Linked DNA regions of Homo sapiens: region 2 is linked to region 1. The links come from fine-mapping of genetic effects on gene expression. A gene starts in region 1. The other region holds a variant in brackets. All regions are shown on one strand. Distances are from middle to middle. Region 1 holds the start of ACP1 (acid phosphatase 1). Region 2 has its middle 90 kb from the start of FAM110C.

Region 1 (16,786 bases):
ATCAGCACTATTTTAATTATTGAAAGGCTTCCCATGGGTGTGTAACTCTTTTACTTGTCACCATATACCCTGGGAATATTTTTAACAGCAAACATTGTATTCCAAATTAAGACAATTATTATTTTGGATCTGTAGAACAACAGATGCCTAGTATCTCAGCATCTAAAAATATAATAAAGACTAGCCCCACACGTTTACAAATAATTATCTTTAACTGTAAAATAACAGCTTACTTTCCCCACAACAATATGAAAACTTGCATTATTAACTGTCCTAAAGGCTAGCAGTAGCTTGCCCTGTTGATTTCGAAAGTTGATGCCACCAAATTTTGTTATGAAAAAATGGAGCACCCCGGTCATCAGTGAAACACTGCATGTACTTCAGGTTTCGCCTATCAAACAAGTTCTAAAAACAGAACATTCCATCTTCAAATGCCTTTAAAAAATGTTTCAATCTGTAAAGTCTCAAGTTTGTCTTTTCCAAATTAGGCAGACTATTTTATACCCTTCTTCAGCATCTTCAATTCAAGGATGGAGACTCATAAAAGGCAGATAGGCTCTGGGAGGGTGGGGCTGTGTCTGCTATACCTGGTAAGAGACCCAGCACCCAGTATGGGTGTAGCCCAGAAGTAAAGTGACTCCACCAGCATGTGCTATCTCCACCAACCATGCTGGCTGGGTCATGGCTCCTGCATCATCTTCACTAATAAGTCTCTATTGCAAAAACATAAAGCACCCTTCATAATTGTGCTGTAGTAAGGAGCTCAATTATTTTCCATCATTAGCTTCACCAATGAAAAACCTCTGATGCTTTTCTACACTTCAATCTCAATAGGGTCCAAACAAATGCTTTGAATGAACAAAGTTTTTTACATTTCAAAAGCATACAACTCTTACTGTCCTCTATATGGCTACCAAGTAAAATGCCATTTACCGCTCAAATTCCCTCAGAATGCAACCAGTAAAGGCATGCTCCACCTCCAGTTTCATCTCAAAACAACAGCTGAAACTCTTCTTTTTTAAACTTAAATTTGATCACTTCCCACCTCTGCTCAAAACCCTCCAATGTTTATTCAGAGTAAGCCCAAGTCTTCACATGGCCTCCCAAGATCTGGACCTAAAACAGGGGTCTGAAAATCGGCTCATGGTCCACTGCCTTTATGTACAGCCCACAGCGGTAAGAATAATTTTTACATTGTTGAGTAGTTGGAAAAAATCTAAAAGTAGAGTACCTTGTGACATGTGAAAATTATACAGAGTTCCATCCAATTCTGATGTCCACAAATGAAGATCCACTAGAACACAGCCAGGTTCATCATATGGATGGCTACTTTGTGCTACACCCTTTCTGTATGTCATGTGAAGCCAATCTAAAATAATTATAATCTGGTTCTTTAAACAAAGAGTTTGCAGACTCCTGCCCTAAAGGACCAGTGTATATAAGGAATTAACTTCTCCCTATACATCTACAATGGAAGCACTGAGAAAACAGGCGCTCAAATTATCTGCTAAATTTTCAGGTATAGATGAGGAATCCTGACTGAGAAAAACTATCTGGCCACTAGGCCCAGCCACTGCAGCTTCCCTGCGGTTCATGACCATGGCCAGTATTCTCCCTTCAAAACTTTTACCTGCTTTCCTCTGGGTTCAGGATGCTTCTCCAAAATATCCTAGGCTTGCTTCCTCACCTCCTTCAAGTCTTTACTCAAAAGTCATCTATCAGGTGGGGCCTTCCCTGACCATCCCACTCAAAACTGCACTCCACTCCCATTCCCCTTTTCTGCTCTATTTTTCTTAATCTTCACATCAACCGATTGAGCACATCAATTAATACTTGCTGGTGACTGAGAGAACGTGAGCTCCAGAGAGGCTGGGATTTTTGTCTGTTGTGTTCACCACACCACTTAGAGGAATGCATGCCATATAGTAGATGCTCAACAACAACAAAAAATCACTGAATTGTATTGAAATACAATAGTCCCCTCTTTTCCAAGGTTTTGCTTTCCATGGTTACCCCATGGTCAGCTTCAGTTGGAAAATATTAAATGAAGAATTCCACAAATAATTCCTAAGTTTTAAATTGTGCACTGTTCTGAGTAGCAGGATAAATTCTCATGCCATCCCATTCCGTCCTGCCCCAGAAGTGAAACACGTCTTTGTCCAGCATATCCATGCTGTCTATCCACCTATTGCCCTCTAGCTTATCAGATCCATTGTGATGCTATCACAGTGCCTGAGTTCGAGTCACCCTTAGTTTACTAATAATGGCCCGAAATCATAAGAGTAGTGAAGCTAGCAATTCAGATACGGCAAAGAGAAGCCATAAGCACTACCCTTAAGTAAAAAGGTGAAAGTTTTTGACTTCTTATGGAAAGAAAAAAAAAACTTATACCGAGGTTACTAAGATCTACAGTACGAACAAATCTTCTATCCATGAAAATGTAAACAAGGAAAAAGAAATTCCTGATCGTCTGCTGTCTTGCCTCAAACTGCAAAAGTTGCGACCACAGTTTTAAATGCTTAGTTAAGGTGGCAACGGTATTACATTTGTGGGTGTAAGAAACGAGCAGACACATGTTCCAATTGACAGCAATTGGGTTTGGTACTACCCACAGTTTCGGGATCCACTGGGGAGTCTTGGAATGTATCCCCTACAGCTAAAGTGGGACTACTGTATATGCAAGGATACACTTCCCCATTAACAGCAACCATGATGCATTATGCCAGCATAATCGACAATACCAACCAAAACTATACAAGGGAATGGAATATTATTTAGTAACCATCCTTAACCAAACTACTGTTTAATAAACTTATTGATTTCATCATTCAGCCTTCAATGAGTCTTAAAAATCAAATGATGCCCACTACCAATGTGAAACAAGGTAAGCCTTCTAATTCGTCTTTCACAGAAGTTAACTTCTACAAAACCTAGTCAGCGTTTATCATATATTGTCCTAAAGCTGAAAACAAAATGAAAAATAAGCCACAGTTATTGCCATCGACAAAATTAAACTCAGCTGGGATTTCAACAGACTATCAAATAATTATAGTAAAATTTGTGTAATAAAAGATGTCGATAAGGAATCACACCTTTTCTGTATTACATCTTTTACTATATTACACAAATTATAGTAAAATTTGTGTAATAAAAGATGTCGATAAGGAAGCAACTCATGATCTGGGAAAGCAAAGGAGGAAATATTTAGGTTTGACTTTATAAAATAAAAAGGCTTTCCAGGCAAAATGCATAATGGGCACCCAGCGATGAAGGCTCAGTAAGCATGTGAAGTGCTACCGAACAACGAAAGGTTCTGGAAGGCAGTGTCCCGAGGGTGTGAGCAGGAAAAGGTACAGGAGATAAAGTGAGGAGTCTGTAAAAATAAACAGAAACTGCAGGAAATGCAAACTCACAGAAGGTTTTAAGTAACCGGACTACTGACAATTTAGGCCTTCCTCTCAGGGTGGAGGCACCGAGGAATATAACCTTGTAGTGCTACACCAAAGGAAGATCCCTGAAGACCAAACGGAAAATAAATTATGTTTGAAGTAAGGCAAGCTAAGTGTTGAAATTCTAGGAGTGAAAATAATTTAAGCTGGAAAGTTCCTGAAAAGCCATTAATAAAATACACTTTCATTTTTCATGGGCCAAAGTTATATAGGGACCTCCAGGTCTCCTTTGCTTGGCTTTTACAATCAAGAAACCCGAAACCGTAAAACTTCATCTCCCTTTAACTCAGATCCCTATCTAAGCATGGGCTAAGGAAACTAGCAAACAAAACAATGTTGTCATAGGACTCAGGAGGCCCCTAAGAGACCACATCAGTCCGACAACCTCCAGGCCTACCTGGGCCCATTGGAGGGGAACGAGAGGGATTCTAGTAGTCGCAAAGAAAGTACCTTGGCTTGTAGGGGCTGTGGCTGCAGATGCCAAGAGCCCCGGATATATGGCAGGCGCGAGGGGACCCAGGTTTAGCGGGCAGGCTGGGCGGGTGCACGGGGCGGATGGGGAACAGGGGCGCTGCGGCACACTCCTAGAACACCCTAGGCCTCCCAGTCCCTGGCCTCCTCCCCCTCATGGTTCCTAGGCCGGCGGCACAACCTACAGCGCACAAGCCCGATCCAACTCTCCAGAGGACGTCAGAACATGAGTAAGTCGGCGCCCTCTTACCCAGACACACAAACAGCACGGACTTGGTAGCCTGTTCCGCCATCTTCCCGCGCGCAGAGGCGCCGAGACACCGCGGCGTTCCGCACGCCGACGCGGCGCAGGCGCACTGCCACCCTCTTGCCCCGCGCGCCTGCGCAGTCCCGCACCAACGCCAACAGGGCAGCGCGTGTGAGAGCCACGCCTGCGCAATCGGCTCCAGTGCGCCTGCGGAGGCGGTCCTATGACGGTAGTAGGACGGGCGGGGAGGGTCCGCGGGTCACCTGCAGGGACTGGGCCGCCGTTCACCTGCAGGGGCGGGGCTGCAGGTTGTCCGGAGGAGGAGGAGCTGCGGGGGTGGGGTCACCTGGAGGGAGTAGGGCCGCGGAAGGCGAGGGGGTGTGTGTGTGTGGTGGCGGGGGTTGGCGGGGGGGAGTCACCTGGAGGGGGCGGGGCTGCGGGTCGCTTGGAGGGGAAGGAGCCGCGGGAGGTAAAGGTTACCTATAGGGGACGGGGCCGCAGGAGAGGGGTACCTGGAGGAGGAAGGGCCGCGGGTCACCTGCAGGGCGGGCTCAGGCCTCGCGGCTCCGCGGGCCGCCCACCTGGGTTGGGGCACAGCGCGAGTCTCGCGCACGTGGCGGGCTGTGGTGCCTGTCGTTCGAGTTCGCATAGAGGGGCTGGGCGGGTCACGCGGGGAACCTGCCTTGAGCCCCGCGGGGTCCACGCCGGACCAGGGCGGCCTTGGGCCTGGGCGCTCCCTGAGACCCCCACCCCCAACACCGTGCTTGGAGCCGCCGCGGGGCTCTGGGCTTTTCGATCTTGAGGACGGGGCGGTTCCGAAGTCCCTGAGGGCGAAGGCCTGAGCGCGGCCCGGCGGGCGCGTGGTTTTTGTCCCGCGAAACGTACACGGCGGGTGTTTTGCGCCGCCTCCTTCGTCACCTGCCGCAGGTACGCCCTCGCTGGGGCCTCCTTGTCCGCGGGGCGGGGCAGCGCGCCTTCCTCTTCCTGGGCAGCCTCGGGACGGGGCGCCGCGGCCGGGCGGGCAGCAGTGAGTACCCGGGGACCCACCTGTCCGGCAGCACCCTCCCCTCTCAAGAGCTGGGCGGTGGTGGGAGGAGGAGGACGGGAAAACCGGCGATGCCTCTGGGGTTTCTAGGTCGCGCGTCTGTTAACCGCAAACCGCCCAAAGTTAAGATAGAGCAGCTTCCAGGACTTTCTTGACCACAGCGATTTTGATTGAAGTTTAGCCACCGTCTTTTCCATTTTTAGAAAAGCTATTCCGAAGTTTGGAATGATGACGATGGTCGTGTTATTTTTAACTTCCTGATATTTGAACGGCGAGGTGTCAGCGACCATCCTTCCGTTCCACAGAAGCGTCTCTGAAGTTTGGGTCGAATGCGCGCGCTTGGAATGTGCGTGGAACCCGCGGCAGGCGCGGGGAGGAGGCCTTGGCTAGGGCGCCGGCGAGGTTCGAGTTTGCCAGCCCCCCAACCTGGAAGAGAAGGGCCAGCCCCTCACACCCGGAAGGGAAGGGCCGGTCCCCCCAACACCTGGCGCCGGGGTCGCGGGGCCACAGGGCGAGCGCGGGGTCGCGGCGAGCACGGGTCCTCTCTGATCGCTGGGCCTTGGCGCTGGCTGCTGAGTTTTTCCTTCTTTAAGGAAGTGTGGAACTGGTCTCAATCGGTTGACCACCTTAAGGAAATAGGATTTACACTGTGGACAGAGATGTGTCCTTTACACTTCATTTGAACCAATATGCCCATGCTCCTGTGGAGGCTGAGTTGGAAAGTGACACGAAGCTGCCCCCCCGCAAGAGAGCAGGTGCTCGGTTTCTCTTCTGCTTACAGGAGATGCATGTCCTGATTTCTTGTTCTCCTAGGTGTTTTTATTGAGATGTAGGGAATATCTGAATTCATAACGACTTAGAAAATCTGTACACACAGTTGAGAGAACAGGTCTCGAGGCTAAGGTGCTGTTTACTCCCGTGGGCTGGCCTGTTATTAAAATACTTGTGCAGCGACTGATGTTTACAAATTACTATGTTGGAGGTTAAAATGATCAAAGTGATAACCTCCATCCTGTCTATCATGTTTGAGGAGAATTGGTTATTTGGTTCACTAATGTTCTGTTTAAAGAAAATTTCTGTAAAACTAGTAAATGTTACCCCTCATCTTTTGTAAGTTAAAAAAAAGTTTAAAATAATGTTTGCTCATCAAAAGTGATTTGATACTTTTGTTCTGTTTAGGAAAACTTTATTCTCAAGAGATTTCTCATTCCGCAGAAATAAGGATCTGGCATGTCAACACAAACATAGGAAGTTGAGGCAGTCAAAGGGAAATAACTGCTACCCTGACTCTGCTGAGAGCCTCACAAGTCCCTGTGCACGCCAGCTTGTTTGCCAGTGAGTGGCGTCATGATAAGACAAAATTCTCTGCTCTGAGACCTAAGCACATGAAGTTTTTAAAAAAATTTTCTCTGAGAAGATCCCATTTTTTACTCTAAAAGATCAGACCAGTGTGGCATGTGTGGAACTGCTCTGTACCAAGATCACACTCTTCAGTTGGAGAAGAGGAAGGGCAGGAATAAATAAAGGGCTTTCCTGTCTCCCGAGGGAGCAGAGAAAGCTTTCGCTGTCCTCTTCCTTCCCCAGCCACAGCCTGGGGTTGGGGGACTGGAAACAAGCTCAGGCTAGCACTTGATGTTCAGACGGTAGTCTGAAAGTTTGACTAGGGAGTTAATGATCTGACCAGAGAGACAGGTTTTTATTTTGAGAACTGACAAGCTTTGTGTCCTTAAAACAAAGGAAGTAGTTAAACCAAGGCCCCAGAAAGGTAAGAATTGACTTAAGAAACAAAGGCCATAGTTGTCAAGCAGTGGAGTTCAAAATGCAGTTTTGTTAATAAAAGTAGCTTAAAGCAACATTTGAAAGCCTCTCTAAAGATTAGATACATACACTTTCTTTTGGCTAAGATTTCTTTAGTTTATTCTAAATATACCTTTAGCAGCATTCAAGTTCCTTTGATCTTAGATGGAATTTTATCAGTTTAATGAGTTAACCTCCATTTCACATAAAGTATAAGGTTTAATAATTTGATTAATATGTAATCAGTAAGAACTTGGAAAACCAAATTTAGTAAGCTTGCTTTCCTGTAAGTATTCCTTTCATAATTAGAGTCCATTGAAGAAAATAATATAAGGGAAGCAAAAGTTTGGGAATCTGAACTCTGGTAAGGAAAGTGGTGGAGAGGGGCCCTTGGGTCTTCTTGCTTTCATTCCTGACCCTCCGTGTACAACTAGATTGGAAACCGTAGTCAGCTTTGTCACCTCAGGTGGCAATTTACTCCGAGTAGGATTCTCATGTCCCTGTTTGTCCCCAGTGACTCTAGCATTGAGTTTATAGAACTGCGATCAATACCTAAAATTATTTCCAGATCTTAAGCTGATTTATGCTTTTGAGGTTTCCAAAGTAAAAATTGTCTTTCCGGTATTTTATAAGACCTTCTAATTTAAAAAAAAAATGTGTTACTATGAAAATTTAAAACATTTTAACTTTTGTTTTAAAGAAAACTTTATTTGAAAGTTTCTTAGCTTGAGGTTTGGCAGCCACTCTTTTTTTAGAAAAAACTTAAATATTTATAGAGATTTTGCCTGATTCAAGGGACTTAAGACGTTTATGAGAGTGCAGATGCTAACCATGATGTGAGGTTTAAGAGGCTTCATTAGTAATGACCTGTGTCTTCATCAGTATGATAGAATGGGACATCAGCACTCTGATCAGGTCATGCTCTATATGCCTTATGGTACAGCAGAGGAAAAATGGGTGAGCCATCATTTGATGCTGAGGATGGGATTTGAGGCTTATGTCTAAATTTTTATTTGCATATTCTTTTTGTTCTGACAGAGAAATTCACTGCATGTAACTATGACCACGCATGATTTTATCAGAAGTTGATTAGAATCTGTAACATTTTCTGTAGTTCAGCTGACACACTGAAGATGTCCTCACTGTGACCAGCCTTGTCAACAGCTGGATCACAGTGACATAAGCTGTGTCTAGGATGAGTCTTGCGGTCTGCAGCCGTGTGAGGCTGCATCTGATTCCCAAGTCCAATGGCTCTCTTCCCGTGTTTACAGATCAGGCCATGACCTTTCCCTACAGCAGGATGTTTGCAAGATTAACTCTCAACTGAGGAATTTGCTTATTTGCTCTAATACTGCTTGGTTGAGAGAGTTCAAAGTAGAAAGTCTTCTGAGGGGATAAGATTCATGTATTATTTACAGTGCTTCAGTTGCATGTATCAGAAAATCTAGTCTAAATTGCTTTAACAGAAAAAGATGTTGCTGGTCCATTTGACGAAGAAGTCCAGAGCGGCTTGTGACTTCAGTCTGGCTTTGCAGAGCCCAGGTGCTCTCTCCACCTTCTGCCAGGTTCCCCTATGAAGGCTTTGCTCTCAGACTCTCCCCTTGTGGAGACAAAAATCCCACAGCAAGTGGAAACAGAAGTGCCTTGGAAAAAGTTATTCTGGCAGCTCCTATACAAGTCCCCCATCAGATGCTGGTATTGGACCAGCTTTGGTTATAAAGCCCTGCTGTGGCACCAAAAGGAATGTCGTCCTGATACAGCAGCCTCGGGTCACCCAATCCACTCCAGATACTATGGCTGCAGCATCAATGTAAGCAGACAAGTTGTGCTGCCTCTGAAATAAAGTAGATGAAATATTCAGCAGCAGAAAGAACAAGTTTCCACTCCAGTGAACTAATTCAAATGTATCCAGCATCTAGATATATGTATAAATGTAATTAAAACATATTGAGCATCTAGAGCATCTCTCCCAAGATAATTACCACCTGATAGTAATGGCTATAAAAGCTAAAAGTGGAATCAGTCTACATGTTTCGCAATAGGAATCAATTGAAGCATACATCAAAATGCAGACAGTAGTATTGGTGAGTATTAATGTTATAGATGCTTTTTATCCTTCATATTTTCATATCTGTACTTTTTCCTGTATTTTACAATGTATTTGTACGTTGTACAAATAATTGCTGATCATGTAAAAATATAGAAATATAGAAATTTTGTTGCCATACTTGGGTCTTTTCCACTATGAAATTGAAAAAAAATTCTATAATTCCTGGTTCTTTTATAATTTGATATTTGACACTCTAAATCTTCAATGAATTTGGAGTTTATCTTTCTGTAACACAAAGCTGTGAATGAATTTTTGTTTTTCTCCCCAAATGAACATTATCTAGTATGCAATACATCATTTCAACATAGAATTGAGGTGTCATTTTTATTATATACTAAATTTGTAAATATATTTGGGTTAATTTCTGAATTTTCTTCTTTGTGAATTGATTTTTCTCCTATATTTGCATCTGCTATTATGTATTAATTATTGAGGCTTTGTAATGTGTCACAGGTTCTGTCAAGGCTGGGCTGTCATTGTTCTCCTATTACATATTTTTTCCTAGCTCTTCTTGCTTGTTTATTTTCCCATTTGAACTTCAAAATTACTGTGTTTTATTAAAAGACCCTTGTAAGATAGAAGACAGATTTGATTTCATTAAGAAAAAACAGAAAAAAAAGCAAATTCAAAAGACAAGTAACAGAGAGTCAATGTTTTTAACTCATATTCCAAAAAAATATTAATTTTTAATGTATAAATTAATAAGAAACAGAGAGAAACCCCCTGTAAATAACAAGGTGCATGAGAAACCTTTGATAGAGAGAGTGAAATGTGGTCAGCATTGCTCATCATAAAAGAACAAATGGAAAATGCACTGAGAGCTACTGGCCAGGGCAGCGAAATGGCTCCTGCTACTCACACATGGTAAACAGCTAGGAAACTGGACAGCTGTGTGTAGAGCACTTTTTGCACATGGTGGACATGTCTGAGATCCACAAGATAAGGGGAACAGGAGGTGAACTCCATTAGTGACCGTTTTCTGCCTGGAGCACTTCCTAAACTGCAGGACAAGGAGGGGGCACCCAGAGCCCAGGCTCCTGCTTAAAAGAAGAGGCAGAAATTGAGTCTGAAGAGGCTGAGGTAACTGGAATTTGCAGAGCATGTTACTAGCAATGAGGGACGGCTGAGAGAAAGAGCTCCAGAAATCTGCAGAGGGATCCCCCTGAGCCTTCTGCTGAATATTAAGTGCTAGCTGTGTAGGGTGAAATTTGCAAAGCAGGCAAGAACAACTGCCATGAAGCTTTGAGGTGAACTATTCACAGTGCTTGCATCAGGCTGGGGACAGCCATTCGAAACAGCCACAATGGAGACAGCTTATTAAACAACCAGGGCACCCAGGAGAGAGCCCAGAAGGGACACACCTTGATGGATAAAATAGTTCTAAAGGCTACTCTAGACACACAAACAGAACACAACAACAAGCCAACAAGTGATCAAGCTGATCTACAAGTAACTCACTGCCTGCTAACACAAGTGTTAACACTTTTAAGGGAAGCAATGAAATCTAGGCACTCAACATGGTAATATCTACAATCCTGTTTTACTAGAAAGGAGTAAAAACAGGAAAACATAACCCATAGCTGGAAGAAGAATCAGTCAAAAACAGATCGAGAAATGGCAGATTATACAATTTAAAACACCTATTTTACACAAAAAGAATAAAATACCTAAGAATACAGCTAACCAAGGAGGTGAAAGATCTCTACAACAAGAATTACAAAGCACTGCTGAAAGAAATCAGAGATGGCACAAACATGGAAAAACATTCCTTGTTCAAGGATAGGAAGAATCAACATTATTAAAATTGCCATACTGCCTAGAGCAATTTATAGATTCAATACTATTCCTATTATACTACCAATATCATTCTTCACAGAATTAGAAAACAAAACTATTTTAAAATTCATATGGAACCAAGAAAGAGCCCAAATAGCCAAGGCAATCCTAAGCAAAAAGAACAGCTGGAGGAATCATGCTACCCGACTTCAAACTATACTACAAAGCTACAGTAATGAAAACAGCATGGTAATGGTACAAAAACAGACTCATAGAACAATGAACAGAATCGAGAGCCCAGAATTCATGCTACACAGCTACAATCATCTGATATTTGACAAAGTCAACAAAAATAAGCAATGGGGAAAGGACTCCATATTCAATAAATGGTGCTGGAATACCTGGCCAGCCATACACAGAAGACTGAAACAGGACCCCTTCCTTATACCATATGCAAAAAAACAATTCAAGATGGATTAAAGACTTGAATGTTGTTAAAAACTTAAGCCAAATTAAATTTTAAGGAGTTTAATTGAGCAATGAATGATATGCAAGTCGGGCAGCCCCCAGAATCACAGCAGATTCAGAGAGACTCCAGGGATGCCTCGTGGTCAGAACAAATTTATAGACCAAAAAAGGGGAAGTGACGTACAGAAATCAGAAATGAAGTACAGAAACAACTGGATTGGTTACAGCTCATCATTTTCCTTATGTGAACACTTAGCAGTGTATGAGTGGTTGAAGTATGGCTGCTGGGATTGGCCAAGACTGAGCTATTGTTACAGATGCATACTCCTAAGTTAAGTTCTCAATCTTGTCTACATATTAAGTTAGGTGGCAGTTCATCTACAAGGACTCAAATATTGAAGTATGGAGTTCTTCTCAGGTCACATTTAGCCTGTTTTAACAATGTAAAACCTAAAGCTGTAAAAACTCTGGAAGATAAGCTAGGAAATTCCATTGTGGACATAATCGCTGGCAAAGATTTTATGATAAAGATGCCAAAAGCAATTACAACAAAAACAAAAATTGACAAATGGGACCTACTTAAACTAAAGAGCTTCTGAACAGCAAAAGAAACTATCAACAGAGAAAACAACCTACAGAATAGAAGAAAATATTTGTAAGCTCTACATCCAACAAAGGCCTAATATTCAGAATCTATAAGAAATTTAAACAAATTAACAAGCAAAAAAACAACTCCGTTAAAGTATAATAATAATAATAAGTGGTTAAAGGACGTGGACAAAAGATTTAAGCAGACACTTTACAAGATATAGAAATAGGAAAAAGTGTTCAACATCATTAGTCATCTGAGAAACGAAAATTAAATCCACAGTGAAAGGCCACTGTGTACCACTAAAATAACTAAAATTTTAAAAACTGGACATTGCAAGTGTTGGTGAGGATATGGAATAACCAGAACTCTTATAAAAGTTTCTGGTGGAAGCCTGAAATGTGTAATCACTTTAGAGAACTCTTAGGTGGCTCCTTACATTGTTAAATACACATTTACCACATGAACTGGCAATTCCTATCCTAGGTAATTACCCAAGAGAAATAAAACATTTTTTCTTTTTCTTTTTTTTGAGATGGAGTTTCGTTCTTGCTGCCCAAGCTGGAGTGCAATGGCGCCATCTCGGCTCACTGCAACCTCCACCTTCCAGGTTCAAGTGATTCTCCTGCCTCAGGCTCCTGAGTAGCTGGGATTACAGGCGCACGTCACCACATCTGGCTAATTTTTTGTATTTTTAGTAGAAATGGGGTTTCACCATGTTAGCCAGGCTGGTCTTGAACTCCTGACCTCAGGTGATCCCCCCACCTCGGCCTCCCAAATTGCTGGGATTACAGGTGTGAGCCACCGTGTCCGGCCATAAAACATTTTTTTACAAAAGGCTTACAAAGGAATATTTATAGCAGTTTTATTTGTAATAGCCAAAAGCTGGAAACAACCCAATTGTCTATCAACAGTGACTGGAAGGACAAATTGTGCTATGTCCACACATTAGAATACCAGTTGGCAGTCAAAAAGGAAGAGCTGATCTGTGCAGCAATTTGAGTCTCAGTAATTTCATGGTGAGTAAAATAAGCTAGACAGAAAAGAACACACACTGATGACTATATGAAGTTCTGGCACAGACAAAATTCATACTTAATGACAGAAATCAGATTGGCACTAACCTGAGGCAGGGGCTGGGTATAGGAGTGACCACTACAGAGGGCACGGATGCTGTGATCAGGAGTGGTCTCTACCTCTGTCCATGCACACTGAGCTATACCTGTAACAGGTAGATTTCATTTTGTAAATTGTATCTCATGAAGTTGATTTGAAAAGCCTACACTGAGAGGCAGTATTTTAACTATTCTGAGATAACATTGATTAAAAAATGCAACATGCCAAAATACACTAATGCTGTGATGCCACTTGTTTTTAAAAGGAGTAAAGAGCTACACACATGCATCATGCACACTTAATTTTGCATAAAGTATCTGTGGAAATACCTTCCTCTATCTGACTTAATACCATTGATGAATCTTGGGATGGATTTTTTTCCTGGTCTGGATCTTGTTAATACTCCTGTGTTGAGCCACAAAGAACTGATACTGACATCTTTTAAAGAAATTTAAATAGAACTCCAAAATGACCCTAAGTCAGTTTTCACTTTTTAAAATTTTATTTTATTTTGAGGCAGGGCTTTGCCCTGTTGCCCAGGCTGGAGTGCAGTAGCCCAGTCATAGCTCACTGCAGCCTTGATCTCCTGAGTTCAAGTGATCTTCCTGCCTCCGCCTCCTGGGTAGCAAGGACTTCAGCAAGGACCATGACTGGCTAATTTTTTAAATCATTTTATTGGTAGAGATGGGGGTCTCACTATGTTGCCCAGGCTGGTCTCGAACTCCTGGCCTCAAGTGATCCTCCTCCCTTGGCCTCCCAAAGTGCTGGGAGTACCCAGCCAGTTTTCACTTTTAAGATAAATTACATGTTTCAAACATTCCAGGCACCAAAATATATCACATTTTATTGGAGATATTTATATTTTGCTGAATAAAAGAAAGGGATTTTTTTCTCTGCTGTTTCAGCATTTGATCTGTCGAAAGAATAAACCATGAGTTTATACATGAGCTCTGACACAGGTTTTAATCAATTTTAAAAGTTTATTTTGTCAAGGTTAAGGACAGCCCATGACACAGCCTCAGGAGGTCCTGATGACGTGCTCAAGGCGATTTGAGTATAGTTTGGTTTTATAAATTTTAGGGAGACATGAGACATCAATCAATATATGTAAGATTGATTAGATCCAGAAAGGCGGGACAACTTGAAGTGGGTAGGGGGCTTCCTGATCATAAATAGATAGAAGACAAACAGTTGCATTCTTTTGAGTGTCTGATTAGCCTTTGTGATTTACAGGAATAGTCACTTAGGCTGTAGTCTGGCTTAGTGAAACAACAGGGCAAAGGAAACAATCAGATATGCATTTGTCTCACGTGAGCAGAGGGATGAGTCTGAGTTCCATCTGTTGTCCACAGGGAATTTCCTTGTGATCAAATTGTGAGGGAGGTGTGTAGCTTCTTACCTTTGTAGCTATCTTTTTAGGAATAAAATGGGAGGCAGGTTTGCCTCACAGAGTTCCCAGCTTGACTTTTCCCTTGGCTCAGTGATTCTGGGGTCCTGAGATTTATTTTCCTTTTACAAAAGCAAGCTTCCATTAGCGTACTTCATCTCTGTTCTGTAAATTACTGAGGCGAAACAGTGGAAATGAATGCCTTCAACCTTCCAGATCCTGGCATCCTGCAGTCAGTCACGCATGTGCCTCCTAATTGTAGACAGTGAGACAAGAACTTCTCAGCCTCAGGGCACTTGTGGTCCTACACTGAAGCTATTCAGCTTCTTCGCTCTGCTGATCCCTCGTCCAGTAACAAGAGAATAGTCTATCTTCTCGATATACTTCAGAGCTGGAAGAATTATGTGAGCTTTGTTATGACAAGCCCTCTGATGAGTGTATGAATGTCCAGGCAACACTGTAAACGTAAAGTGCCATAGAAATGCAGGCCGGCGTTACTTGTAGGCTCAATTCCCAAGTCTTCCTAGAGTTTTACTCATCAGAAAGTCTACAGGCAGCCAGTTCCAACATTTTTGGCAAGAACAACAAAATATATTAAATTTATACTATATATTATAGATAGTTACAAAATATATTTTTAAATTTTAAATTCTTATTTTAAATTAGTATTGAAGTCTGTTAATTGCAGGAAGAAGATACATAACAGGGAGGTTTGGCCAGGTTTTGTTTAACATCCTTTGGGGCCCAAGGATTTTATAATTTCTGAGATGAGAGTTTAGAGTTTCTGACTCTCAGCATAGATTTGATTTATTAGGAGAAATAGAGATGATACTGTCAATGAGGATTTCCAGTCATTTCCTTTGATAGGCTATGCTGTGGTAATGCTTCATTGTGTTACCAAAAAGGGGTCCCGATCCAGACCCCAAGAAAGGGTTCTTGGACCTGGTGCTAGAAAGAACTCAGGGCAAGTCCATAAAGTAAAAGCAAGTTTATTAAGAAAGTAAAGGAATAAAGAAGGGCTACTCAATAGGTGGAGTAGTGGCATGGGCTGCTCAACTAAGGATACTTACAATTGTTTTTCAATTATATGCTAAACACGGAGTGGATTATTCGTGAGTTTTCTGGAAAAGGGGTGGGCAATTCCCGGAACTGAGAGGTCCTCTCCTTTTTAGACCATATAGGGTAACTTCCTGATGTTGCCATGGCATTTGTAAACTGTCATGGCGCTGGTGGGAGTGTCTTTTGGCAGCTAACGCATTAGAATTAGTGTATAATGAGCAGTGAAGATGACCAGAGGTCACGTTCATTGCCTTCTTGGTTTTGGTGGATTTGGCCAGCTCCTTTACTGCATGCTGTTTTATCAGCAAGGTCTTCGTTACCTGTATCTTGTGCGGACCTCCTGTCTCATCCTGTGACTTGGAATGCCTAACCTTCTGGGAATGCAGCCCAGTAGGTCTCAGCCTTATTTCACCCAGCTCCTATTCAAAATGGAGTCCCTCTGGTTTGAACACCTCTGACAATTGTATATGAGAAGAATGAAATAATAATAAATTTCTCACTTCTATTTAGCAGAATTTTTCATTAAAATATCTTTTGTTATGTTTCAGTGAATAACCCTATACCTTCCAATTTGAAATCAGAAGCAAAAAAGGCTGCCAAAATATTAAGAGAATTCACAGAAATAACTTCCAGAAATGGACCTGATAAGATCATTCCTGGTAGGTAAATAGGATGAGTGCTGTTTGTCTCTAAATGTCTTTTTCCTAAGTTGTTTTTTGCATTGTTCGACACTCCATTTCAGGCAGAAGCCTCCATCAATGCCAACAAGTAGTTCAGCCACCTTTTGTTCCACCACCTTTTTTCTCATGACTGATCCAGGGATGCTTTGGAAACTACTACCTGTTCATTACAACTTCTGGTTATTTCCAAAGGGTGTTCACAGCATAACTTGTTTCATGCAAAGGAGATCCAAATGCCAATTAACTTTGGCAATGTTACAGACCAACCTCCCTCTTAATTAATCACAGCACGTGACTCTGAGCTCTGTTTTAAAAATTTGTTATTGATAGAATAATCTTAATAATGATAAAATAATGATATTAATTATTGTTGCATTCCTGCCACTTCTCCCATCATGAGAAAACAGTCATCATAAGGCCTTGCTACTCCAGGTGGAAGGGGTCTGGACAGGGCCAGCTGCAGACCAGGCAAACCAGCAGGGCCTCTTCCCTCCCTGTCTCTCCCTTTTGCATAGGCTTTTTCTCCTGCCTCCCATCCCAGGGTGCCAGCGCCCTAAACACCACATGTTCCTGCTCCACTTGAGCTCTCTGC
Region 2 (15,993 bases), 120 kb after region 1:
GGCTTTAAAAAAGCCTTATCTCAGATTCCTTCTACAGAACAAAGTTCCATAAAAGCCAGTTTAAAAGGCTGATGTGAAAATAATTATTCTTGCTGCACTTTATACAGATAATCTGACCAATTATAATAAAGCAAATTAGTCCTACCATGATTTGTCTTTTAATAAAAATGGGAAACTGGAGAGATAAAAATTATGTTTCAGAAACTATAGTACACTTCTTGCTAAATTCTAGTCTTGCCTGATGTTTTCCAGTTTTTATTATTTTCTATGGTTGAGATTAAATTCTAATTTTTCTGGCTACAGGTCTCCAAAATAATGTTTTCAGTTTTTTCCTTTTTCCCCATTTTTCCTGATTGGAAATCACGGAAACCTAAGCTGTGCTTTCATAAAGCCCTGTGAACTGAAGACTAGACAACTTAAACCTCAGAAGAAAACAGCAACAACCTGTTTACATGTGTTACTGTTGCATACTATTACGTTTCAGCAGGCGCTGCCGCTAAGCTCCTGAAACAGAGAGTGCCGCTGGGAAGAAATCGACCTCTCCCACTCCAGTGCTGCACACAGTGCCCCATCACGACGACCCCCTCTCAGCAGGAAGCAGCCAGGAAGATTACAATGCCCCATCTCCCTACGATTCTCGTGATAAATAAATATACAAGCATGGTAGAAATCATGTGCAAATTGACAGTGGGGATTGTGGCGGGCCAGGTCTCACTAATGCAGGCCTCCTTCACAACTGTTTCAGTACTGACTGAGTGGTTAAGTTAAATATTAAAAGCTAAAAAAGCCAGTGCCCTTTCACAAAGGCTGGAATGTAACAAAAGCCCACCCAGAGTTTTGCCTAAGCTTTTCATGGGCCTTAAAGCATGACAAAATAAGGAAGGAATTCTGAACAGGACTCGTTTAGGATTAAACAAGTTTTATTATCTGTATTTAATAAATGTATTCATATAATAAATATAAATTTGTTTTAAATGTATTTATAAAGATATTTAAAGCCAAAGAATATAAACTTTTCAATAGTTCAAATCTATATTGCTGCTTTGCTTTTCTGATAGATTGTTCCAGTTTATGGTTTATCATTAAACTATTTACAGGATGCTGTCTCATTTTTAAAACTCATAATCTGAAAGATATTTAATGCTTATTTTTATTAGTTTTCATAACTAGATTCTATGTTTTTCAGTGTACCCCTTGTTTTATAGTATTGTGATTATTCTTAGTTATAAACCCTTGACCTGGACGTTACTGTCTGGGGATTCAACCTCGAGTCCTTACCAGGAGTCACGGCCATTTCAGTCACAGGTGCGGTCACAGGCGAAGCTCTCGTGAAGCCGAGCTTCTCCTTCACTGTGATGGTGGGCGAGTTATCAGCAACACCTGGCGGGGTCTTTCTTTTTTTGGTTTTGAGACGGAGTATCACTCTGTCATCCAGGCTGGACTGCAGTGGCGCTATCTCGGCTCACTGCAAGCTCCGCCTCCCAGGTTCACGCCATTCTCCTGCCTCAGCCTCCTGAGTAGCTGGGATTACAGGTGCCCACCACCAGGCCCGGCTAATTTTTTTTGTATTTTTAGCAGAGACGGGGTTTCACCGTGTTAGCCAGGATGGTCTCGATCTCCTGACCTCCTGATCCACCCCTGGCGGGGTCTTTCTTAGCACAATGATCATCCAGTCTTGTCACTGGAACTCTATGTAGCTTTTTTCTGGTCAAAATTGATAGCACGTCTCCTTGGGGACTTTTCCAGCATCTGCCACGTGATGGCAGAATAAGCCTAGAAAGATGGCAACCCAGTTAAGTAGTACATCTATGGTGTTTTCCTTTATAGGTAAGCAGTGAACTTAAATCCTGAATTCATAGGTCACTAGATGTTAACTCCAAAGGCGAAATAGCATGCTTGCTAGGAGTTGATCTTATTTTTAACAGGACCAGTAACAACACTCGAATAAGCCATTGGTTTGGTGTAAGTTAACCAAATAATTCTTTAGGGTGTGTGATATGGTTTGGATTTGTGTCCCCGTCCAAATCTCATGTCAAATTGTAATTCCCAGTGTTGGACGAGGGGCCTGGTGGGAGGCAATTGGATCATGAAGGTGAATTTCCCCCTGGCTGTTGTCATGGTAGTGTGTGAGTGCTCACGAGATCTGGTTGTTTAAAAGTGTGTAGCACCTCATGCTTCCCTTTCTTCCTCCTTCTCCAGCGTGTGTAGCACCTCATGCTTCCCTTTCTTCCTCCTTCTCCAGCCAAGTAAGATGTTCCAGCTTGCCCTTCGCCTTCTGACATGATTGTGAGCTTCCTGAGGCCTCCCCCTCAGCATGCTTCCTGTACAGCCTGAAGAACCATGAGCCAATTAAACCTATTTTCTTTATAAATTGCCCAGTCTCAGGTAGTTCTTTATTGCAATGTGAGAATGGACTAATACACTGTGGTTTAGTCATTCTACCAGCCCAGGAGCTTGGTGATAATAAAGAGTATAATAATTTAAAGACCTCTGTAGTGTTTTAAAGAGCCCCTAAATTAGCCCCGTAGAAACCAAATGGCTTATCTACTGGATTTTACATGTTCTGGAATCCCAAAGGTTAGAATGATAAAATTCAGTAATGATATGATCATTGTTTGAGCATTTGCTTTAGCACGTGAACGCCCTCCGGCCATCCAGGCATCATACACATCCCTGCTAAACAATAATTCTTAACTTCCGAGGGCACAACTTCTGTAAAGTCCATGTTTGTCCAGTTCTCAGATCATGTTGGCCTCAGCGGGCTTCTTCGACTTAACTTGGGTGTTTCCCACAAATAACTTTGCTGACAAACAGCACACCTTTGTGTCATTTCCTGAACTATTTGACCCTATAGCAAATGTAGTAGAATTCCAAGGTTTTCAGAGTATTCTTTTGTTCAAATGAGCTTGCTGATGGCATGAAAAATCCACTCAATCGTACAACTGGGGGACAGGAATAATCCTATTGAGGACACCCCATTTTCTTTCTTTCTTATTTTCTAAGTCTTGGAGGGTTGTTTGTTGCTGAAACAGCGAATAGGAGTTCCTCTGCAGCAGTAACGGGGCTTCGACTTCCGCAGTTCAAACTTTATTAGCCCTTTTTACTTCCTTTATATGTTTCATCTTGTTAGGTCTGTAATGCAGTCTACAGTGCATTACAGAAATCTGTAAAGACAATGGCAGTGACTCTAGTAAGACAGCAGTTCGTTTCCCAAGTGATATTTTAGTTCTCATTGATATTAGAAAGCCTCTATTCTTCCAAATTTGGCCCGTGACACGACAGACCCCCAATGCATATTAGCCATCAATTAGACATTCTCCCTTCGTAAGACAATGGCCAATTATGCAGTTTGCATAACAGCTTCGGGTTCTGGCACCTGAGCTGATTTTACATTTGAGAGAACTTAAACCTCCCCATGTGTCTCGCACGAGACCAGTCACTGAGCACTGTTGAGTCAGCATTGGGACCAGGAATATCAGCCGAATCAGACCCAGACTGAGCACCTTGTGCTGTAGCAAAACGTGGCCAGCATCCGGCAACAGAAAGGTCAGATTCAAACAGTTCCTTCTGCCTGGAGTGCAATTCGATAGACTAGTGCATAACTAGTCTGGCGGTGCACCGGTGAGTATGGTGTCTTACAGACTTGCAAGGACTCGTAAAGTAGCAGTAGCCCTTTGCGTTAAGTGTAAGCTAAATATCCTAGAGTCCAAGTAAGAGCCTTTGCAGTCTGGAGGCAGCTGCTGTTACAGCTCATCGACACTCTGGTGTCCCCAGAGCAACAGAGAAGGGCCTGTGGTCAGGGTCTGATTCAAAGTAGCCACACCTCTAGCCTCTCCCTTGTTCTCTAACAGAAAAGACGTTTGAAATGTCATCTCGGGTAGGCACCCAGCACAGATGGGGAAACAAGGCTTCCTTAGGATCTGGAAGACTTCTTCAGCTTATTTAGACCACAGTAAAGTTCTGGTGAACTCCTCATGTGACATCATAGCAAGAGGCTTAGCTTTTTCAGAATAGGAAAGGACCCGTAGTCTGAACCCCCAAACAACCCCCAAACTGGCAGAGTTTGTGTATATGTGTTAGATAGTGTGTGCTTAAGATAGGCTGACTTCAGGATAGAACCGGTTTTCATCTGCCAGCCTAAAACAAATGTCCCAAATTCCTGACTTCACTTTGATAATACTGCAATTTATTTAGAGAAGCAAAATTTTTATTAAATTGAAAGTATCTTGTTTGTAAGCACATACAGTGTTAACAGCTATTAATAAATCGCTCACATGTTGAATTAGTATGAATTAAAGGTGGGGAAAAGTTCTCTTAGTTCTCTTGTGAATGTCTAGAAAGTATAGCAGGCAAATCTGAGGATCCGTCACCACAAATGCGGAAGAAAGAAGATTCCAGGGGCACTCAAAGAAGAGCCTGGTACCTCAGTGAAAAGTACAGAAAAGACGCAGAATGCAGCCCCATATGGAACAATAGGAATCAGAGCAGCCTCAACCTCACGTATTTCTCGCAGAGCTTGTACAAATCTACGGGCAATTTCTTGCCCAGTTTTCATTCTTTTTCCCAGGTAATTTGGGAATATAAAAAGGAAAATGCGCCTCTCTTGACTATGCTCTGTTTTTCTAACTCTCTGAGTTTTTTATTCCTTGTATTTGAGCTAGAATGAGAGGATGTTGATTTACACATGTCCATAATGTTTTTGTTTTGTTTTAAGCTGTGAAAAGGGGATGATCTCCATCTGTTTGTGCTGCTATAACCAAATACCTGAACCTTGGTAATTTATAAATAGTAGGAATTTATTTCTCACAGTCCTGGAGACTGGGAGTCTGAGATCAAGGCTTGGCAAGGTCAGAACCTGGTGAAACTGCTCTCTGCTTCCAAGGTGGCACCATGACAAGCGCTGTGTCCTCAGAGGGGACGAGTGCTTCATCCTCACATGGTGGTAGGGCCAGAAGGGCAAAAAGGTGGAATGCTGTGTGAAGCTTCTTTCACAAGGGCCTTAATTCTATCGTGAGGGAGGAGCCTTATCACCTCATCACCTCCTAAAGGTCCCGCCTCTTAAAACCTCGACATCGGAAATGAAGCTTCAACACACATTTTGAAGGGGACACAAACATTCAAACCAGAGCAGGATTCAATTTCTTTTACTAACCCATATTATTTGTTCCTTGAGCCCTTCTAATTTGAGATGCTTTTATTTTATTTTAATTTTTAAAATAAATTTTATTGTGTATATTTAAGATGTAAAACATGATGCTTTAAGATACATATATATACATATATACAGTAAAATGGTTATTATAGTGAAGCAGATTAACACATCCATCATCTCACATAGTTACCCATTTTTGTTTTTGTTTTTGTTTTGTGGTAATAGCAACTAAAATCAACTCATTTATCAGGAATTCCAAATACAGCACAATTTTTTTTAACACTAGTCCTCATGTTGTACATGAGATCTCTGGACTTGTTTATCCCACACACCTGCTACTTTGTACCTTCTGACCTATATCTTCCCATCCCCCACCCTCTCCAGTCCCCCTGGTAACCCTGTTTCATTCGCTGTCTTTGTTTACCTGTTTTTTTAAAAGATTCAATATGTAAGTGAGATCATGGAATATTTTTCATTCTTTGTCTGGCTTGTTTCACTTTGCATAGTGTCCTCCAGGTTCATGCATGTTGTGGCAAATGGCAAGATCTCCTTCTTTTTAAAGGCTGAACAGCAAAAAACACAATCAACAAAATAAAATGGCAACCTACAGATTTGGAAACAAAATCCAATATTTATAAAGAACTCATACAATTCCATATTAAAAAAACAAACAACCGAATTAAAAAAATGGACAAGGGACCTACATAGCCACTTCTCCAAAGAAGACGTTAAAAGTGGCCAACAGGTATATGAAAATGTGCTCAATGTTATCAGTCACCAGGAAAATGTGAATTAAAGCCACTGTGAAATGTCTCACATCTGTAAGCATGGCTACTATCAAAAAGTCAGGAGATAATAAGTGTTGGTGAGGGTATGTAGAAAAGGGGATGCTTGTACTCTGTTAGTGGAAATGTAGATTGCCACAGCCATTATGCAAAACAGTATGGAGGCTCCTAAGGAAATTTTAAAAAGAACTACATTATGGCCTAGCAATCTCTCCTCTGGGCATATAGTCAGAGAAAGTGACCTTGTGAAAATGTCGGCAGTCTCAGTTCATTGCAGCATTATTCACAATAGTCAAGATATGGGAAAAACCTAAGTATCTATTTGATGAACAAATAGATAATGATAGTTCTTTTATTTTAGAAAGTGCTTATTTACCAACTCCTTGCCTCCTGGGAGCTCTGAAAACACTCCATCTACAGTATGGAGAATCTACTTGTTGAGAAACCTCAGAGAAGAAAGAACAGGGAGAAGGTTGTCTAGAGGTACCCAAAAGTTGGATGTTTTCCTAGGTTGACGTAAAATGATAACCGTCTGTAGAAATTGTGGAGTGTGTGCCTTCAGTGTTCACAAGAAAGATCAGGACAAGCTTAAAGTGGGAAAAGAAAGAGACACATAAATGCCTCCCACCCTCAGCTCTGAGGTTACTTTCCACAATTTTCCAATTACTTTTTGTCCAATTTCCTTAGGCAAAAATCTCTTGGAGATGACGGTAAAGCTTTAGAGTTAGCTTGTATCTCTCAACTCTTCTTGACCCTCGTTTAGCATTCATTTTTCCTCCACTGTCCTGATTTCTTACAACAGTAACATATTGACTTTCCATTACGGGGTTCCTTCTTGTCTGGTGGTGGCCCCAGATAAGGGTTTATTCCCTTTGTGAATAATTCTAACTGGGAAATCTTAAGGGCTATTTTTTTGTCTTCTTTATCTTTCTCCATATTTTCCCAAACTTGGGCTACTTCCCTCAAAACGTGAGAAATTATTCTTGCCACCCAACTACATTTTCCCTTATTTGCTCTCTTGAATTCTCTGCAACAAAGCTGCCACAGAAGTGGAGAGGATCAGGAGCCCGGACCCCCTGAGACATGCCTTGGACTTAGGAAAGGTGAACAGCTGGTGAAAACTCACGGGCCTCATGTGGCTAAGAAGCGTGGCACTGTGGCTTCTCCCAGTCCACCTTCAGTGGAGAGGCTTCAGGAACTGCCCTCGGTGGCCCCTCATGCTGAGCATTCCAGGCACAGCAAGCAGCCTGAGTTGCTGGAGCAGCAAGCAGTTATCCTCCTGGAGCCCGGCATGGCAGAGTGAAGCACGCCTTCCAGGAGAGGGACCCGCTGACAGCATTCCAGAGTTTTCAGAACATTTTACCATTAAAGCCAACAGCAAACCACACAGGGCCTTTCAGCCACATTACCAATTTTACTCAATGGTAACTCAAAACTTCTAGTGAGAGTTTGGGATTTTCCCTGGGAACCCAATTCCACTGAACCAAAGTAGTTGAAGAAACACTTTTTAGCAAATAGTCCCTTATTTGATTAAAGATGGCTACAAATACTCCAAGAAATGTGCCCAGTGGAGGGCTTAGTTGAGGGATCCCATCCTTATAACCAAATTTTTGGGAGGAAAAAAAGGGAAATCTCTACCCAGAGGAACATACCACTTTGTGTAGAATAACCTTTTTTCTTTTTAGTAGACTATTAGTCCATGCTCACATTGCTATAAAGAAATACCTGAAACTGGGTAATTTATAAAGAAGATTTTTTTTCTTTTTTTTGAAACAGTCTAGCTGTGTTGCCCAGGCTGGAGTTCAGTGGTGTGATCTCAGCATCATAGCTCACTGCAGCCTTCACTTCCCAGGTTCAAGAGATTCTCATGCCTCAGCCACTCAAATAGCTAAAGGCGTGCGCCACTACACCTGGTTAATTTTAGTGTTTTTAGTAGAGACGGGGTTTTGCCATGATGTCCAGGCTGGTCTTGAACTCCTGGCCTCAAGTGATTCGCCTGCCTCAGCCTCCCAAAGTGCTGGGATTACAGGTGTGAGCCACCACGCCCAGTCTGTAAAGAAGAGATTTAATTGGCTCACGGTTCTGCAGGCTGTACAGGAAGCACAGTGGCATCTGGGGAGGACTCAAGAAGCTTCTAGTCATGGCAGAAGGTGAAGAGGAAGCAGGCACATCTACATGGCAGAGCAGGAGGAAGGGAGGAGGGTGCTAAACACTTTTAAATAACCAGATCTCATGAGAACTCACTCACTGTACAGTACCAAGGGGATGTACTAAACCATTCATGAGAACGCCGTCCCCATGATCCGATCACCTTCCACCAGGCCCTACCTCCCACACTGGGGATTACAATTCAATGTGAGTTTTGGGTGGGGACAGAGATTCAAACCATATCAGTAGGCTTTATTTCTTAGAGCAGTTTTAGGTTCACAGCAAAATTGAGCAGAAGGTACAGAGATGTCCCATATACTCTTAGCCCCACCTGTGTGTAACACTCCCACCCCCATTATCAACAT[C/A]ACCCACTAGAGTGGTGCATTTTCTTACAATTGATGAGCCTGCATTGCCACCTCATTAATCACCTAAAGTCCATAGTTTATATTAGTGCTCATTCTTGTTACTGTGTATTCTATGTGTTTTGACACATGTACGATGACACGTTTCCACCATCATAGCATCATATGGAATAGTTTCACTGCCCTAAAAATCCTCTGCACTCGGCCTATTCATCCCCGCCTTCACCCAATTTCTAGAAACCACTGATATTTTCACAGTCTCCATAGTTTTGCATTTTCCAGAGTGTCACAGAGTTGGAATTCTACAACATGTAGCCTTTTCAGATTGGCTTCTTTCATGTAGTAGCATGTAAGTTTCCTCCATAGCTCGATAGCTCCTTCCTTTTTACTGATGAACAATATTCCATTGTCTGGATGTACCACAGTATATTTATCCATTAATCTACTGAAGGACATCTTGGTTCCATCTAAGTTTTGGTGATTATGAGTAAAAGTTTTTATTATTGGGGAAAAAAATCCCTGAATGTATGCAGTTATCCAGCAAGTAGTTACAAAGCTACTGTGAATTTTCAGCTCATTTATATGAATAAAACCTACGGTTGTTATACATCACCCTTCTTTTAGTAAACAGTCAGAAGATATTCAGTTTGCACCAATAATTCCATTGAGCTTACTTTGCAATTATTTTCCAACTAATTCTTTACTAGTACTTCCAATGAGTGATTTAGCACATACGATTAATCACACCCTTTAACATGCCTCAGCAATATTAGATTAAATTCACTTTCCCACGTTTCCTAGAAATCTTTTTTTTATGTAGAATTACTGCATCTTTACGTACTGGCTTTACACTTTTTTCTCATCCTTTCCATCTGTTTGCACTGCTTTCTGGATAATCTTTCCTCTCAACCAAAATCTTTCAGGTTACTAATCACTCTCTATATCCAATCAGTTGTGCTGTTCAGAGTTGTGTTTTTTAAATGCTATTTTTATTGAAGTATAATATACACATATGACACGCACAAATCATATTACGCTGAGTGTACAGCTCAGTGAAATATCACTAAGTGAAACATCTTTAAGTACAACCAAGATCAAGAAACAGAATATTTCCCAGTACCCAGAAACCCTATTTTTCCTCTTCACAGTTACCTCCCACACTTCCAGTTTCCTGAAGACAATACCATTCCGGTTAGAATATATTAGTGCTGCCAAGTTTTTGCACTGTGTATAAATGGAATCATAATTGTCCTTTCTTTCCTGACTGGTTTCCCTCAATCTTACTTTTGTGAGATTCAGCCACGTTGTTGTGTGTGGTAGTAGTTTACACTGGCTACTTTTATGTTGTGGTTGGGTTCCTCCAGCCCTAAGGGGGACTCCTCAGGCTCTAGCTGGAGACAACCATGGTAGAGACTTTTCCCATTGGCAAGCATGCTCACTCCTCCAGTAACTCACCCTGCAGTAGACTTTGCCCATTACAATTATAAAAAACACACCCCTAGGTGGAGGTTTTAAATGCTAATGAGACATTTCATGTGTGTACTAGCATGTACAGCCATAGAGCATGTGGAACCACCTAATACATGATTGCAAGTGACAGCCCCTCACATCCCTTCATGAATAATCATGTAAGATCCTCATAAAGAGAGTCCCCAGCACTGGCTGCTGCTGGCTCACTCCCTCTCTCCAGCAACCTGCTCTGCCTTGTCATTCAGTGTGTGCTCTCCCTTTAAATAAACCTCGCTGCTGCCGCTGCTTTCCAGTCAGGCCAGCCCACTCCCTTCTTGAACTGTCCTCTATCTTCCCTCAAGAAACTCTGCTGCTTAACCCTTGCTGTGCATCTCTTGGCTGAATTCTTTCTTCCAAGAAGGCAAGAGCCACAGACCCTGCACCCCTCCCAGTAACATTTGTACGGTATTCTACTGTGCAAATTTATAATAATTTTTCCATTCCACTGTTAATGGACATTTGAATGGTTTCTATTTTTGCTGTTTCTAATAATAGAGCCATCAGCATATGTGCTTTTCTTGTAGGTATATCTAAGAGTAGGAATCCTTGGATCACAAGATACATCCATTTTGTTTAGTTGTTCTTTCCTTACACTATATTTCTTTTAAAATCAAATGCTGTGTGCTTTTTATCTTTCAGAAATTCTTCTAATTTTTTGCTGATTACATTCTTTCTTGTCTTTTTTTTTTTTCCTTTTTTGTGACAGTGTCTCACCCTGTTGCCCAGGCTGGAGTGCACTGAGTGATCTCAGCTCACTGCATCCACCACCTCCTGAGTTCAGTGGATCCTCCCACCTAAGCCTCCTGTGCGGTTGGGACTACAGGCATACGCCACCATGCCAGGATAATTTTTAAAACTTTTTGGAGAAACAAGGTCTCACTGTATTGCCCAAGCTGGTCTCAAAGTCCTGGGCTCAAGTGATCCTCCTGCCTTAGCCTCCTAAAGTCCTGGGGTTACAGATGTGAGTCATCATGCCCAGCCATTAATTATTATCATTTTATTACATCTTTTCTATAATTTCAAGGACTTGGAAGTAGAAAGAGTTAAGAATAGGAATGTTAAATCTTCTGTTTTTATATCAAATCCAAACCACTTTAGATTTCCACCAAAATGAGAAGGCATGGAATTATTACTCTGATTGGCTCAGGAATGAGATGGAGTTTCACTCTTGTTGCCCAGGCTGGAGTGCAATGGGGCGATCTTGGCTCACTGCAACCTCTGACTCCTGGGTTCGTGTGATTCACCTGCCTCAGCCTCCTGAGTAGCTGGGATTACAGACATGTGCCACCATGCCCAGCTAATTTTGTAGTTTTAGTAGAGATGAGGTTTCTCCATGTTGGTCAGGCTGGTCTCGAACTCCTGATTTCAGGTGATCCCCTCGCCTTGGCCTCCCAAAGTGCTGGGATTACAGGCACGAGCCACCGCGCCTGGCAGATTTGGTTTTCTAATGAGCTAAAAGTCTCTCCCTGGCATCTCTCTTGAGTAAAGTCTGTTCATTGGGTTGTGAGTCTCCTTGTAGATTTCTTTACTTCCACACTGTGCTGGCTGGCACCATGGCTGGCTGTGTGAATGAAGGTGCTGCCCCCAGCTGTGTCTCTCTATCCCAAGCACGTTCCATCCACTCTCCTCAAGGCTCGCTTTTTCTCTGTAGGGTTACTGCTCCCCTTTCTGTGGGAAATCTTGCTAACCAAGATTGAAATGGACTCCTCCATTGTTCGGCACCATCAAGTTTGCCCCAAACAGCTAATAAGTAACAGTAGGATTTTCCTATTCATGTATTTTATGTTTTGTGTATTTTAGACATAAAATACATGAATAGGAAACTTGAGATTTTACAACATTATGAATATTGAAAGTTTCAACTCCCTCACTTCCTCAAAAGACTAAAGAAACTGCAACGCTTTACTGTGATAATTACAATGAGGACAAAGCATCATGGCTGTCATAATCAACTAAAAACCCCTGCTGCCGCTTTGCACTTCTCAGTGTGAGGCACAATTTCTGCTTGCTGTCCTCATCTCAGGGGTCCCTAGTCTAACAATGCCTCAATCCAGTTGACACCCATTTATCTTCCTCAACAAGATAAACATAGTGAGATGTTCAGTCCAGGCAGACTAGGTGCATTGCCCAAGGGAGAGGCATTCAGTGGTGGAAGTGAGACCACTGTGTGCTTCTCATTGAGAATTCCCCCTGCAATGTCACCATATACAACCTGGCAGGCTTGGTGCAGGGCTTGCTTTGTAATTCTATGGCCCAGCCCTAGGAAAATTGAGTAAACAATGGCACAGGGTTCGTCTTGATACCATTTATTCCAAGTGCAAATTCTATTGAAAACTTAATGTGAAACAGATCGCCTCTTCTCTTAAATATTATCCATTGTAGTGTCCAACTGAGCAAGTCCTGACCCTAGCATCACATTGTCAGAGTAAGATGCAAAGTGTTAAGAACAGATAATGGTCATGTATCAAGAGTGGATCCCAGTGGGAACATTCCATTTCATGCGTAGTTGTTGACACGTCTGCAGCTTTAAGCTACACAGTTCCAGATGCATTTTTTTAACATGAATACCTCAGCAAATAACTTTAATTTCTATTCACAGATGTCTGTGCATCAGTGTGATTCCAGGTGAATAGAAGCATAGGATCCCTGTGATAGAAAAACATGTTTTAGAGCATTAATGAAAACAGAAATATTACAATGCAGTGGAAACAACAAATGGCTAAGCAAGTGTTACTATGGTCATATGAGCACTATTGTCCCTGAAACTTGCCTCTCTCCAGCCATCAGATTGATTTAGTATTACCAGTCCCTGATCCAGATTACTCTTCTAAACTAAAAACAAAAGGTGGCCATGCACTGTAGCTCACGCCTTTAACCGCAACATTTTGGGAGGCCATGGAGGGAAAATTGCTTGATCCCAGGAGTTCAAGACTAGCCTGGGCAACATAGAGAGATTCCATCTCTACAAAAAAATCTAAAAATTAGCCAGGTGTAGTCGCATATGCCTGTGGTCCCAGCTACTTGGGAGGCTGAGGTGGGAGGATCAGATGAGCCTGAGAGTTTGAGGCTGCAGTGAGCTGGATTATGCCACTACACTCCAGCCTTGGCAACAGAGCAAGACCCTATCTCAAAAAAAAAAAAAAAAAAAAAAAAAAAAAAGAGCAAGAGGAGACTCAGAAAATACAAATTACATTGTAGATTTTGACTAAAATATAACATGTTGACTGGATGCCTCTCATTGCCTTTGAAAAGTAGTTTCTGTAACACATAGACCAATGGTTCTCAAATTGGCTGCATATTAGAATCACACTAAAGCTTTAAAAAACACTAATGCTTAGACTCCTTCTTCAGATACTCTGATGTAGTTATTTTGGGGTGGGTCCTGAGTATTGACACTTTTTTTAAACTCCGAAGGCAAATCATTGATTTAGGTGAAACTCAACACTGCAACTTGCAGGAAACCTAAGACTTCAGAGTTCTAAGTGTTTGGATGACTCCCTGAGCAATCCTCGGCAAAGCTTTGTTCTGCCCACAATATGCAGAAATGTAAGCAGCATCTAGCTAACCATCCATATTGCTCTATATAGCACTCACAAATAACAGCACTAAAGAGTTTAGAACAATTTATTAATTATTCTCCTAAAAAATGAAATGGACATAGACCAAGTAAAACCCTCCCATATCCCAACCCTCGATTGCAACTGTGCCTGCCTACTTCTCCTGATTTTCATTTGAAGATAAGAGGTCTTATGATTTTGAAATGATTTTCCTGTCTACAAAAAAGTTATCTAACCTTAACTTTTAGCCACAGATTCATATCCTCCAAGAAGGTAAAAACATGTCCTGTTCATAGGTATTTTCTGTTTCCTTAAATGAATCTCCTAAGTCTTGCATCAGTCTCCTCCTAAAGACGTCTGTGGACTCTTTGTTCTTGGTGCTGTGCCTTCACTTACTGTGGCATTGTGACCTAGAATACCTTTCATTTTCTTGATAAAAGGTCAATCCTTAAAAGTCTAGCTGAAATCCTACCATCTTTATAACCATTTATTTATTTGTTCATTATCCATTTATTCATTTATTCAGTTGATAAAGAAACATTTATTGAGTGTTTAGTGCAAGACTAGAATTGATATATCTACTCCAATTTAATATGTTTTTTTTAATTTTCTGGTTCTTAGCCATATATTGGTCTATATTAGTGAAGAACAGAAAATGAAGTATAGAGAAAAATTTAAATCAAGGCTAACTTCCGGAAGCCCTAGGCAGAGCAATCAGGCAAGAGAAAGAAATAAAGGGGATCCAAATTGGAAAGAAGGAAGTCAAACTATCTGCTTGCCAACGATATGATCATATACCTAGAAAACCCTACAGACTCCTCCAAAGACTCCTAGGCTTGATAAATAAATTCTTTAAAGTCTCAGGTTACAAAATTAATATACACAAATGAGTAGCACTGCTATGCATCAACAGTGACCAAGCTGAGAATCTCATCAAGAACTCAATCCCTTTTACAGCAGCTGCAAAACAAATAAAACCTAGAAATATACTCAACAAAGGAGGTGACAAAGCTCTACAAAGACAGCTACAAAACACTTCTGAAAGAAATCAGAGATGACACAAACAAATGGAAATATATCCCATGCTCATGCATTGAAACAAATGGAAATATATCCCATGCTCATGCATTGAAAGAATCAATATCATGGAAATGACCTTACTTCCAAAGCAATCTACAGATTCGATGCAATTCCTATCAAAATACTAACGTCATTTTTTCATAGAATTAGAAAAAACAATCCCAAAATTCATATGGAACCAAGAAAAAGCCCAAATAGTCAAAGCAAACCTAAGTAAAAATAACAAATCTGGAGGCATCACATTATCTGACTTCAAATTATACTATAAGGCTATAGTAACCAAAACAGCATGGTACTGGTGTGAAAGTAGATACATAAATCAATGGAACAGAAATAGACTCCCCAGAAATAAAGCCAAAAACTTTGAACCAACTGATCCTCAACAAAGCATACATAGAAATAATTGGAAAAAGGACACCCTCATTCAATAAATGGTGCTAGGAAAACTAGATAGCCACATGTAGAAGAATGAAACTTGATCTCTATCTCTCACCACACACAAAAATCAACTCAAACTGCTTTAAAGACTTAAGTCTAAGACCTGACACCGTAAAAATTCTAGAAGAAAACCTAGGAAAAAGTCTTCTGGACATTGGCCTAGGCAAATAATTTACAAGAAGGAAAAATCCAATTTGTATACTGTAAATGAAATAACATAAGTAAAAATATTTTGTATATACAAACATTAATTAAATATAAGAGATTGTTATTATTATGACTCTTAGGACTTCAGGGAGTTACATCAAAATCATCTTTTTATACTGTTATGAGTTGCTGTTGAAGGCAACTAATATTAATGTGCCAAGATTGTTTGTGGAATATCACATAATTAAATGCCCCCAGTATCAAAGCAGGTAAGGTAATGTGTGGGTTGTCCAGGGGAAGAAGAGAAAAAGATTGGTGGGGCCCCTGGCAAAGGGGAGAGTGAACATTCAGCTTAAGGAGATTCAAATGTTAAAAGCTGTACGTTCATAGTGTATGGCCACGACAATCACATCTCTGGGTCCTAGCCTTTGGGATGCTAATTTGTGACCCCGATCAATATTATTCAGATTTTCTCTAATTCTCAGCATGCACTTTCTGGATCCACGCCAATGCGTTTACCACTCTGGAACTGCTAGACTGAGCCCTCCTCCTTGCTCCTGAGGAGCCCGTGGTCTGCCTCTGCTCCCCTGTCCACATCGCACATGGGCTTGAGGTCTAGCCTCACTCCTCTGTGGAGCCCCCAGGGCCTCTGCTGCCCCTGTGACGTGATTTCCTCAAAATTAAATTTCACCGGATTCTTCATTATATTCTACCACCCATGTTTATTTAACATTCGACTATATTTATCTATCTTCTTCCAGGCTATTTTAAAGTTGCACCAAGAAAATTACCATGCCACATACTTGTTTGCATCC

Evidence for each region.
Region 2: its variant is fine-mapped to the expression of ACP1 in tibial nerve (GTEx, PIP 0.96).

The regions. Positions count from the first base shown.
Region 1 is chr2:252,392-269,177 of GRCh38, reverse strand. It overlaps ACP1 (acid phosphatase 1), which reads right to left and starts at 4,231. Exons shown (of 6, transcript NM_004300.4): 1 at 4,171-4,231. The coding sequence starts at 4,213. It overlaps SH3YL1 (SH3 and SYLF domain containing 1), which reads left to right and starts at 5,146. Exons shown (of 10, transcript NM_015677.4): 1 at 5,146-5,194; 2 at 16,063-16,173. The coding sequence starts at 5,194. RefSeq lists an enhancer at 4,121-4,170 and silencers at 4,521-4,600, 4,671-5,250, 15,803-16,003.
Region 2 is chr2:128,044-144,036 of GRCh38, reverse strand. No RefSeq gene overlaps it. Among named protein-coding and RNA genes, the nearest start is that of FAM110C, 90 kb to the right of the region's middle. The variant C/A (reference allele first, on the strand shown) is at 8,451.